Linked DNA regions of Homo sapiens. The protein of the gene in region 2 purifies or fractionates together with the protein of the main gene of each other region. This does not show direct contact. Each region holds a gene or a part of one and is shown on either strand. Other genes may lie near its edges.

What was found.
Region 1: the proteins of BRPF1 (region 2) and JADE2 purify together in Homo sapiens (affinity purification with mass spectrometry, with the first as the bait; one large-scale study listed by BioGRID). This does not show direct contact.
Region 3: the proteins of BRPF1 (region 2) and HRG purify together in Homo sapiens (affinity purification with mass spectrometry, with the first as the bait; one large-scale study listed by BioGRID). This does not show direct contact.

What each region holds. Positions count from the first base shown.
Region 1 is NC_000005.10:134,532,135-134,535,786, forward strand, and holds part of JADE2 (E3 ubiquitin-protein ligase Jade-2), read left to right. Parts: exon of another isoform or gene 1-1,411; coding exon of another isoform or gene 1,412-1,456; intron 1,457-3,652. UniProt on the Homo sapiens protein: Scaffold subunit of some HBO1 complexes, which have a histone H4 acetyltransferase activity. Acts as an E3 ubiquitin-protein ligase mediating the ubiquitination and subsequent proteasomal degradation of target protein histone demethylase KDM1A.
Region 2 is NC_000003.12:9,741,624-9,745,165, reverse strand, and holds part of BRPF1 (peregrin), read right to left. Parts: intron 3,142-3,542; coding exon 2,995-3,141; intron 2,815-2,994; exon of another isoform or gene 2,625-2,814; intron 2,223-2,624; coding exon 1,913-2,222; intron 1,589-1,912; coding exon 1,265-1,588; intron 943-1,264; coding exon 658-942; intron 159-657; coding exon 11-158; intron 1-10. UniProt on the Homo sapiens protein: Scaffold subunit of various histone acetyltransferase (HAT) complexes, such as the MOZ/MORF and HBO1 complexes, which have a histone H3 acetyltransferase activity.
Region 3 is NC_000003.12:186,675,926-186,678,798, forward strand, and holds the end of HRG (histidine-rich glycoprotein precursor), read left to right. Parts: intron 1-1,097; coding exon of another isoform or gene 1,098-1,121; coding exon 1,122-1,958; 3' UTR 1,959-2,309; downstream 2,310-2,873. UniProt on the Homo sapiens protein: Plasma glycoprotein that binds a number of ligands such as heme, heparin, heparan sulfate, thrombospondin, plasminogen, and divalent metal ions. Binds heparin and heparin/glycosaminoglycans in a zinc-dependent manner.

The DNA.
Region 1 (3,652 bases), on a different chromosome or scaffold from region 2:
TTGGCCTCCATAAGTGCTGGGATTACAGGTGTGAGTCACCGCACCCCGACTGATTTATGCTTTTTAAACATCACTCTGGCAGCTGTGTGGAGCCTGGACATGGGTGAATTGATACTGGAAGCTGGGAGATGAACAAGTGGTTCAGGCAAGAGATGAGATTGGCTTGGACCAGTGTGGTGATAGTAGGAAGAAAGTGGGTGTGTTCTGGAGGCAAAGCCTAGTGGACTTGGTGGGGCCGAGGATACAGAGAGGCTGTGGGCTTTTGCTTCATTGAGGGGACTCTACGACACCCACACTTTGAAGGAGAGCTTCCTACCTGTGTCTCCATGCTGGGGGTTGCATGAGAGGTGCCAATAGACTAGTGCAAATGGCAGGAAAATGAGATCTTTTCTTTCCTAAAGTCTCCTTTATAGGTAGGATTTCGGGAGCACTTTCTGTCCTCGAAAGCAAGTGCCTTGTGACACTGAAATCTTCTCCCACAGCAGACCTTGCTTTGGGGGAGATGGGGGAAGCCAGTGGAAAGGAAAAACCAGAGGCCAAGATCACATCTAAGCACCTCCACCCCCCAAGTGTGTTTGCAGTCCTGGATTTCAGCTTTGGGAAAGGAGTCCTCCCTGTCCCTCTTGCTGAGGTTGCGAGGAGGGTGATCCATGGGGCAAAAAGCTGACATAGTGCGGTCCCAGGCCTCATTAGCCACTGTGACAGTGGGAGCTCGCTGGAGCAAGGAGGCCTTTGGAAGACTTGGTTTAAAGGAAAGAAGCTGCACTCACAAAACAGTGGCTTCCTTCTCAAGCCTAGTTGTTATAACAATTAAGCCACCACAAAATCTGCTCCCTTAATAATAGCCTCCCATGGGACAGCCCTGACCCAGAATAATCCCTAGGCACTCTGGGGTGTTTTGTGGAGGACAGGGTTAGATGGGGAATTGGCTTGGTGCGGGGTGTAGGTCTGCATGCTGTCACCTGTTGGTCTCTGGGCAGTCAAGGAGTCCTTTCGAGGGCACCTTCCTTACTGTATAGGGTCACTGCCTCTTTTTTAGGAGCCCCTCCTCCAGGACTTTCCGACCTGGTCCAAGGCTGCCATGGTATTACTATCTGGCACCCATATGGATCTCTAGCCACTGTGCTGAGGGCTTTACACTGTTCTTATTTATTCTCACCAGCTGATTCTGGCCCACAGATGTGTTTAGTTTGGCCCTTTCAAAGTGTTGTAAAAATTCTGACTCAGTTGCCAACATTTTAAATTAAGGACATTTATGTAAAAAGCCAGTTCCAGTTTATCTCCTCTGGGAGGTATGTCTTTCCCAAGGTCCCTGGTCTATGAGGAGAGGAGCTAGGATTTGAACCCATCAACAACTTCTGCTTTTAATACTGTGGGAGATGCTGGCTCGGAAGTACCTTCTTTGCAGGAAATGAAGAGAAATGGAATTCGCTTACAGGATTGCAAAAGAAAATGGGTGGGTGCACTTTTAGCACCTCCCCCCCACTCCACCCACCGATGTCAGGACAAAGCTGGGTTGCGCTGGGCTGGGCTGAGCTGAGGAAGACGTAGGCTAGAATCAGGAGTCAGGATTCTGTCAGTCAGCCTTTGTCACACTCTCTCTTTTTTTTTTTTTTTTTTTTTTTTTTTTGAGATAAGGTCTTACTCTGTCGCCAAGGCTGGCGTGCAGTGGCACGATCATGGCTCACTGCAGCCTTGACCTCCCTGACTCAAGCTATCCTCTCACCTCAGCCTCCTGCATAGCTAGGACCTCAGGCATGTGCCACTACAACTGGCTAATTTTTAAATTTTTTGTAGAGATGAGTCCCCCTACGTTCCCCAGGCTGGTCTCGATCTCTTGGGCTCAAGAAATCCTCCAGCCCCGGCCTCCCAAAGTGCTGGGATTACAGGTGTCGCACCCTTGACACGCAGACTCTGGAAGGCAGTGAGGGTGGCAGCTGTGGGTTGCTGAGCTGTTTGTACTCTGCTGCGCAGAGACGGAGAAGTCAGAAGGTCAAGAGCACGGTCTCCTGAATCAAATACAGTCACTGACATCTTGGGCAGGTCACTTAACCTCTGAGCTTCAGTTTCCTCCTCTGCAAAAGGGAAGCAGCCATGATATATGCCTATAACAAAGGGCTGCTCTAGGGACTCGTTGAGGTCCCTGTGGACCCTGTGGAACCCCCTCCCGCTACTGTGAGCGCTTAGCAGTCTTAGCCATCCTTGTTCCTGCGTTTGTGCTGCTTGCACCACCAGTGTCCCTTGGAACCTCAGCCTCTGGAGGGCACTTTACCGGCATCTTTGAAGCTGGGCGGCAGGCAGCCTCAATGAGCCTTCCTGCCATCCTGGTCCTGCTGGTGGTGGGCACTGGGGTAGAGAGAAGCTCCCGGCTAAGATCAAGTCCAAGGCAGGAGGGCCATCCTGGTCAGCTGAGAGATCTGGGTGTTCACACCCACCTTAGAGAGCAGATGCTCACTAGTCTCTGCAGGGCTGCAGTAAGATGGTGGCATCCCAGGGCTCAGCAGGAATGGACTGGGGTTGGGGGCAGCTGGAGTTAGGTGCAGATGGGCTGGGCAGTGGGGCTTTCTCTCTACTGACACAGACTCCCTCCCTATCCTTTGCTGTGGGGAGTCAGTCAGGGAACACAGGGGAGCGTGCTCTGAACCCTGAGCCCCCAATGTGTTCCCACATTAGGACTCAGCCACAGGCGAGCTGTAAGACCCAGAGCAGGTTAACGCATCACCTGCTGTGCTCCCCTCCAAGGGGATGAGAGCAGGCTCTGCCACCTGGGACTCGTGAGGATTATAGGAAACAGTGGTGGGAAAACACTTTCAGCAGCCAGGAGCTGATGGAGGGTAAAAAGGCAGCTCAGCATGCGCCTGGGGATCAGACCTCATGGATTCAGTCCCATCTCAGCCACTTACTAGCAGGACAAGGTGCTGGCCTCACTTGTAAATGGAGCTCACAGCTCACCTGGTTAGGAACAGGAGATGATGTGGATAAAGGAAGACTCCGCGTGAGCTCAGTATGAGGCCCCTATGTGAGAGTTGTCCTTAATACCTTGAAGTTAGATGTTGCAGTTGAGGTAGAGTTTATTTGTACGTTTATCTGGGAAGGATGGTGGGGAGTAGGAGGGCAGGGTAGCCCAGCCCAGGACCAGTCACCCTGGGCCTGATGTGTCTCAGGGACCCAGCCTGGAGTGTCCCCCGCCTCTCCCCCGCTTCTGTACACTGCTGACCACCACTCGCAGGACTAGGCCCTCAGTGTTTTCTGTGCTGGCTTGTCCCTAACTTCCGACAGCATGGTCCTCCTGGAAGAATCAGTCTTGTTTGCTGTCCTCTACCCACCTACCTCCCTAGAGGACTTGTGGCTCAGGAGGCCTTTGCAGTGGTGGGCCTGAGTGTCCTTGGGTGGCAGCTGGGACTGGGCAGGTCATGGTCACTATTCAGTTTGGGCTTGCTGATGCCCCCATGTCCTCTCCCTCTACAACAGCTTTGGTTAGACCCTTGCTCAACCAAGGGCTCTGGGCTCAGGAGGTGGGAGATGCAGCCTTTTAGAATCCCAGGGCCTCTGTGGGTGGGTGGGAGAGGGTGGTGCTGGCAGAGAAGAAGGCTAGGACAGGGCTTTATTCTTATCTTTCTGCAGTGTCATAAGTGTGGGGAGGTTGGTTATG
Region 2 (3,542 bases):
GGGCTGGTACCTGGTCCGGTCTGAAGCAGCGCTGCTACTGCTACTGCTGCTGGACTCAGAGTCTGAGCTGCTCCGGGGAAGGCTGCAGTCATTACGGTATACCAAGAAACTCTTCTTCACTGGTTGGTTTCCACCGCTGAAGCCATTGGCTGGTAAGTCTTGGTTGAAGGGAAGGGGAGGAGGGAAGGAACCGGTCAGGAAGATGTAGATCAGAGATGACATGGAGGTAAGAGGGACTTGGAGCTTGGGTTCCCCTTCTGTGCTGGAAAATTCCTCCAACCTTGGCCAGCAGAGCTAGCTCTGGGCAGTGTCTACCACAGTTGGCCACAGCCCTGCTCCACCCCTTGCTTCCCTCGGCAGTTACTGGCTTTAGGACACAAATGGCTTAAAGGGCAGGAGATCCCCAAGGAAGGTGAGAAGAGAAAAGGTAAAGTGATACAATGGAGGCAGGGGGCCCTGGATGGGACTTTAGCTGGGTCGTAGTGTCTCTGGGCCTCAGTTTTCCCAACTGTAAGATGAGTGAGTGGAGTTAAAGGATTCCTAAGGACCCTTCTAGCTCGCTCTTTTATGGGCAAATAAAGGGGTAACTGGGAGTATGCTGGGAAGAATGGCAGCTTTGCTCACTCTCTTGGGGGGCTGGGTGATGGTAAGGCTCACCCATTGGGGGGTCTTCTGTGGACTTATCACTGTCGCTGTCTGAGCTCGAACTGGGCCGGGGGCTCCTACCCCGCTTGCGCTGACGCAGGGAACTCATGATGGGGAGCTGGGGGGGCCCCACAGGACTGCCTCCGTGGCTGGGGGTCATCTGGCTCTCCCGGTTTTTGGGGGGCCGGCCCGGCCTCTTGGGCGGTCCAGCTGTCTTCGGGTTCTTTTTGGAGAACAGAACTGAGGTTCTCCTGCCCACCTCATGTGCGGGGGTTGAGGACATGTTGGGACCCAGGCCTGGAGCAGAGAAAGAAAGAAGGAGAGTTGGTGAGGGGCCTGATTTGAGAAGGGTAGATATCCAGGGTCATGCCCTGGGCATATAGGACCATTACTCCAGCTAACGTTGGGGAGATCATTTTAGGGGCTTGGAATTTGGAAGATTAACTCTTATACAAATAGCCAGAGAGGCAGCTAAGAGGCCCCTGATTGGGGAATGAGGGAGAAAGTACAGCTAGCTGTGTAGGAGGGACCTCTGCCTGGGGAATGGCAGGGGTTGAGTGTGTGCTGCAGAGCCAAAGTCTGACTTGCTTTGGGGTCCACCTTGCCATGGGATTCAGACCTTTGCTTGTCTCCTGGCTGCTGCTCTCCTCTGCCGCACTATCTGTCTGCCCATCCTTGTCACAGGCTGCCGGGTGGGGTGTCAGACTACCCCGGCTCGAGGGGCCATGCCGCTCAGGGCCATCACGTCCCGTCTCTCGCTGATGGGCAAGCTTCCGCCGCAGTGCCGTCATCTCTTTCTTGATCATCTTTGCACGCCGTGAGCGGCCCACACTCTGCTTGCTGGCATTCACTTCGTCCAGCCGCTCCAGAAGCAGCTTTAGCTGTTCTTCCACTGGCAGGTGCTTCTGGTTCTCCAGCAAGACCAGCCGCTCTTCCTCGGCTGCTAGGGGTAGGGTTGGAGGGGAAAGGTCAGACTCAGGGCAGCCCTCAGGGCCCCTTGAACCTGGGCAGGCAGCAAGAAACCCACTCATCCCCCCTGGGCTTCTCACCAGGAACAGCTGTAAAATAGCAGCACCAAGATGTGGAATGGCGGGCACTGCTATCCATTCACCCAGTCTGGCTTCTTGGGGAGCATTCCTGGGGATAGCTTGCCACTGCTCAGCCTAGCTGCTTTCTGCCTACACTGCCTGCTCCCAGGAGGGGACTTTTGGAAAGCTGTCCATCCCCGGCATTGGCCTCTTATATGTGTGTGTGATATATCACCCACCATCTTCAGTGTGGTGTGTGGCCTCATCTCCAGCCAGGCTGTGGGGGATATGCATGCCCGTCTCAAAGTCAATGCCCATTTTTTCTGCCTGGCGCCGGGCCTGGCGGAGCACAGCACCACCCTGCTCACGAAGCCGCACTGCTGCCCGGTAGAAGATGGTGTCCTTGGCGTTATACTTGAGGCAGTTGCTGACGATGAGGTTGAAGTCCTCCTCAAAATCATCAAAATTCAGGTAGCGGTAAGCCTCCAAGTTCTGCTTCATGGTGAAAAAGTCCATGGGCTTTTTGATGTGGTCTAGGTAGTCAGGTACCTGGAAGGGCAGGGCAGGTTTGTTTTAAGTGGAGATATCCTCCTTATTGCCCCGAACCCTGCTCCTAACAAGCCCCCCTGAAACACATCCAGCAACCTCCTCCCACCACAGTTAGAGGCAGGCATATAGCACAGGGGAAAGGAAAGCTGGATTCTGGTCCTGACTTTACCAGTCACAAGCTGTGTGACTTTGGCAAGTCTCTTAACCTCTCTGGGCCTACTTTTCCTCTCCTGGAAAATGATGAAAGTAGAGCCAAATATACTTTCTAGACTATATGAGGCTTTAGTAAGAAAATGGCTTGGGGACTCCTCTGAAAATAAACACCACCTTGCATTCCTACAGCTCTTTTTACTTAACAGTAACTTATAAGGAGGCTGCTGCCTCAGGCCTCTCATTTTATACCTTTTAGAGAGAAGAGTCTGCCAGTCAGGACCTAGGGCTTCAGAGCTGGTTCTTTAGGTGCTGAGCCTTCTAAAGTCTCCGTTCTAGGGTTCAGCACCCCGAAAGTGTCTTCCTGCCCTGGGATTATTCATTTGGCAGACTCAGTCCCTGCCTCTGGGGAAGGAGTGCAGACTGCCTCCCATTCTGGGCCCTTGGGGTGTGACAGGGACAAGACAGAGTCCAGGTGATACATGTGGCTCCAGTTCATCCTGCCCCAGAGCCACCAGCCCCTCTCTTCAAGGTCCCCATCTAGTCCTGGCCCAGACCTGCAGCAGGGGTCCAACTGGGAGAGGAACAGAGAGAAGGTGGAGTGAGGGGAAGGGATTCTTACTTCGTCCAATTCGGTTACCTCAGACAGAGGGACCGGCTCGCTGAAGATGTTGCCTGTGTCCTTCTCTTGGAGCTGCTCCAAGGTTTTGCGAAGGAGGATGAGGAAAGGAGTCAGCTGCATCTCCATGGCAATCTGCTGAACCTTGATCTAACATAGAAAAAGGCCTGATCAGCCAGGCCTCGGCCAGTTCAGTGGCAAAGAGGTCTGAGGATATGGTCCCAGCTGGCCTGGGAACCCGCCTTCTTTCCCACCCTCACAGCTGGGTGTACTCATACAGGTCTACCTTCTATGAGGCTCCACCCAGGGAAACTTGCACCAACAATTCTGGCTTCCCCCTTTCTTGAACTACCAGCACCAGCTACCTATGTCACATAACTGAGGATTCTGTTCATACGCTCCTGTGACATTCTGCTTCCAGCAGAACTAAAAGCACACCGAGCACCAGGAGACCTGACTCCAGCGTCAGCCCTGCTGCTATCTGGCTGGGGTACACACGCTATTCCTTCTCCTGGGTCTTTTTTTTTTTTTTTTTTTTGAGACGGAGTCTC
Region 3 (2,873 bases), about 180 Mb from region 2:
ATGGTGCCATCTCGGCTCACCACAACCTCTGCCTCCTGGGTTCAAGCGATTCTCCTGCCTCAGCCTCCTGAGTAGCTAGGATTACAGGCATGCGCCACCATACCTGGCTAATTTTGCATTTTTAGTAGAGAAGGGGTTTCTCCATGTTGGTCAGGTTGGTCTCAAACTCCTGACCTTAGGTGATCCACCTGCCTCAGCCTCCCAAAGTTCTGGGATTACAGACATGAGCCACCGTGCCCGGCCTCTGTAGCTATTTTTTAAAAAATTAAACTCTGAACAAGGAAGAGAGAGAAGAGGTCAAGTGTTCAGCCTTTAGGAGTAAGGGATGTTGATACCATCAAGCCTCAGTTAAGAATATCAGTTATAAGGCACTAGTTTTCCAGTGTTGGTCTACAGATGGGTGCCAGGTCATAATATTGTTTCACCACTCTGTGTAGTAAAAATGAAAAAAAAATAAGGATAATGAAGTTTTTTATATCTAACATTTATCCATCTAAAGGACAATCCTTTACTCTGATATTGTGTTTCTGGCTCTTTCTTTTTTTTTTAAATCAAAATTTCATTCCAGGCTGGGCATGGTGGCTCATGCCTGTAATCCCAGCACTTTGGGAAGCTGAGATGGGTGGATTACTTGAAACAAGGAGTTCAACATGGTGAAACCTGTCTCTACTAAAAATACAAAAATTAGGAGTCTGGGCAACAGAGTAAGACTATGTCTCAAAAAAAGAAAAAAAAAAATTAGGTGGGCATGGTGGCTTGGGCGTGTAGTCCCAGCTACTTGGGAGGCTGAGGCAGGAGAATTGCTTGAACCTGAGAGGTGGATGTTGCAATGAGCAGAGATCGCACCACTGCACTCCAGACTGGGTGACAGAGCGAGACTCAGTCTCAGAAAAAAAAAATAGTTTCTTTTGTGAAACAATGATGGTGGTAAATGATAGTTATTGTTAATATTTTAAATATCAACTGGGCTAGATAACAATTTGAGAATCTTTTTTCGTAATACTTTTTAAATTGATTTGTGGAATCTATGATCTGGGAGCCATTGGTGTAAATCAAGTCAAGTATCTAACATCTTCTTTTATGTTACATGATGATAGGCACTTTTCTGTGACCTTTTCCAGGAACATGAGAACATCAATGGTGTACCGCCTCATTTGGGACATCCCTTCCACTGGGGTGGGCATGAGCGTTCTTCTACCACCAAGCCTCCATTCAAGCCCCATGGATCTAGAGATCATCATCATCCCCACAAGCCACACGAACATGGACCCCCACCTCCTCCAGATGAAAGAGATCACTCACATGGACCCCCACTTCCACAAGGCCCTCCTCCACTATTGCCCATGTCCTGCTCAAGTTGTCAACATGCCACTTTTGGCACAAATGGGGCCCAAAGACATTCTCATAATAATAATTCCAGTGACCTCCATCCCCATAAGCATCATTCCCATGAACAGCATCCCCACGGACACCATCCCCATGCACACCATCCTCATGAACATGATACCCATAGACAGCATCCCCATGGACACCACCCCCATGGACACCATCCTCATGGACACCACCCCCATGGACACCATCCCCATGGACACCATCCCCACTGCCATGATTTCCAAGACTATGGACCTTGTGACCCACCACCCCATAACCAAGGTCACTGTTGCCATGGCCACGGCCCACCACCTGGGCACTTAAGAAGGCGAGGCCCAGGTAAAGGACCCCGTCCCTTCCATTGCAGACAAATTGGATCTGTGTACCGACTCCCTCCTCTAAGAAAAGGTGAGGTGCTGCCACTTCCTGAGGCCAATTTTCCCAGCTTCCCATTGCCGCACCACAAACATCCTCTAAAGCCAGACAATCAGCCCTTTCCTCAATCAGTCTCTGAATCATGTCCAGGGAAGTTCAAGAGTGGGTTTCCACAAGTTTCCATGTTTTTTACACATACATTTCCAAAATAAAATGTGATTCCTTTGAAGAGGAAAATGAATAATACATTGAATTAGAAACATAAATAAAATGACCAGTAATTGTGAAAATTACAGTTCTTTTCAACCTACTTTCATACTGAAGATGCAGCAAAATGTGAATGGGAAAAGAGATGGCCTGAGAAGAGAGATCAAATGGAAAGGAGAGGAAAGAACTCAGTGCTGCCTATTAGTAGTTAATTCTGTCACTCACCACTACATCACTTGAGACAAATCTATGCCACTCAGAATCTCCTTCTTTCCTGGACTTAACTCTAATTCTAGAGTCTCTGTTACTGCTTGGGCTATACCTGGGCATACTAATAAAGTATGGTATTGAAACTATTGTTATCATTTATTTCATTTTATTTTCTAAGTTCCAGGGCACATGTGCAGGGTGTGCAGGTTTGTTATATAGGTAAAAGCATGCCATGGTGCTTTGCTGCACCTATCAACCCATCACCTAGGTATTAAGCCCAGCATGCTCTAGTTCTTTTTCCGAATGCTCTCCTGCTTCCCACCCTCCCCCTATTTATTATTATTAAAGTGACCTAAATTCTCTCCTCGTGATTATTACTAGGCATCTAAATTTTCTTTTGGAAAAATAAGTTCTAAATTCAGTATTGAAGCAAACAAACCTCTGGCTATAAATTGCAAAGAAGCTTGCTAACATGAATCATGACCATAAATTCAGGTGCATAAGAAATGTCACTTTATGCTCAGAACAAATTAATTTCTATTTGAGGATGCCATCCTACTGGCTTAGTGGAAATTTAACCCCAGTCCTTCTTGGAGTCCCCTTTCCCTGCCCTGCTACTTTCCACACAAAGTTGGGCCACAGTTCTAGGATCTCACACCATGCCAAGCTGTCCAGGTGGTAGGAAGCAGGATAGTGACTATCCCTCAGCC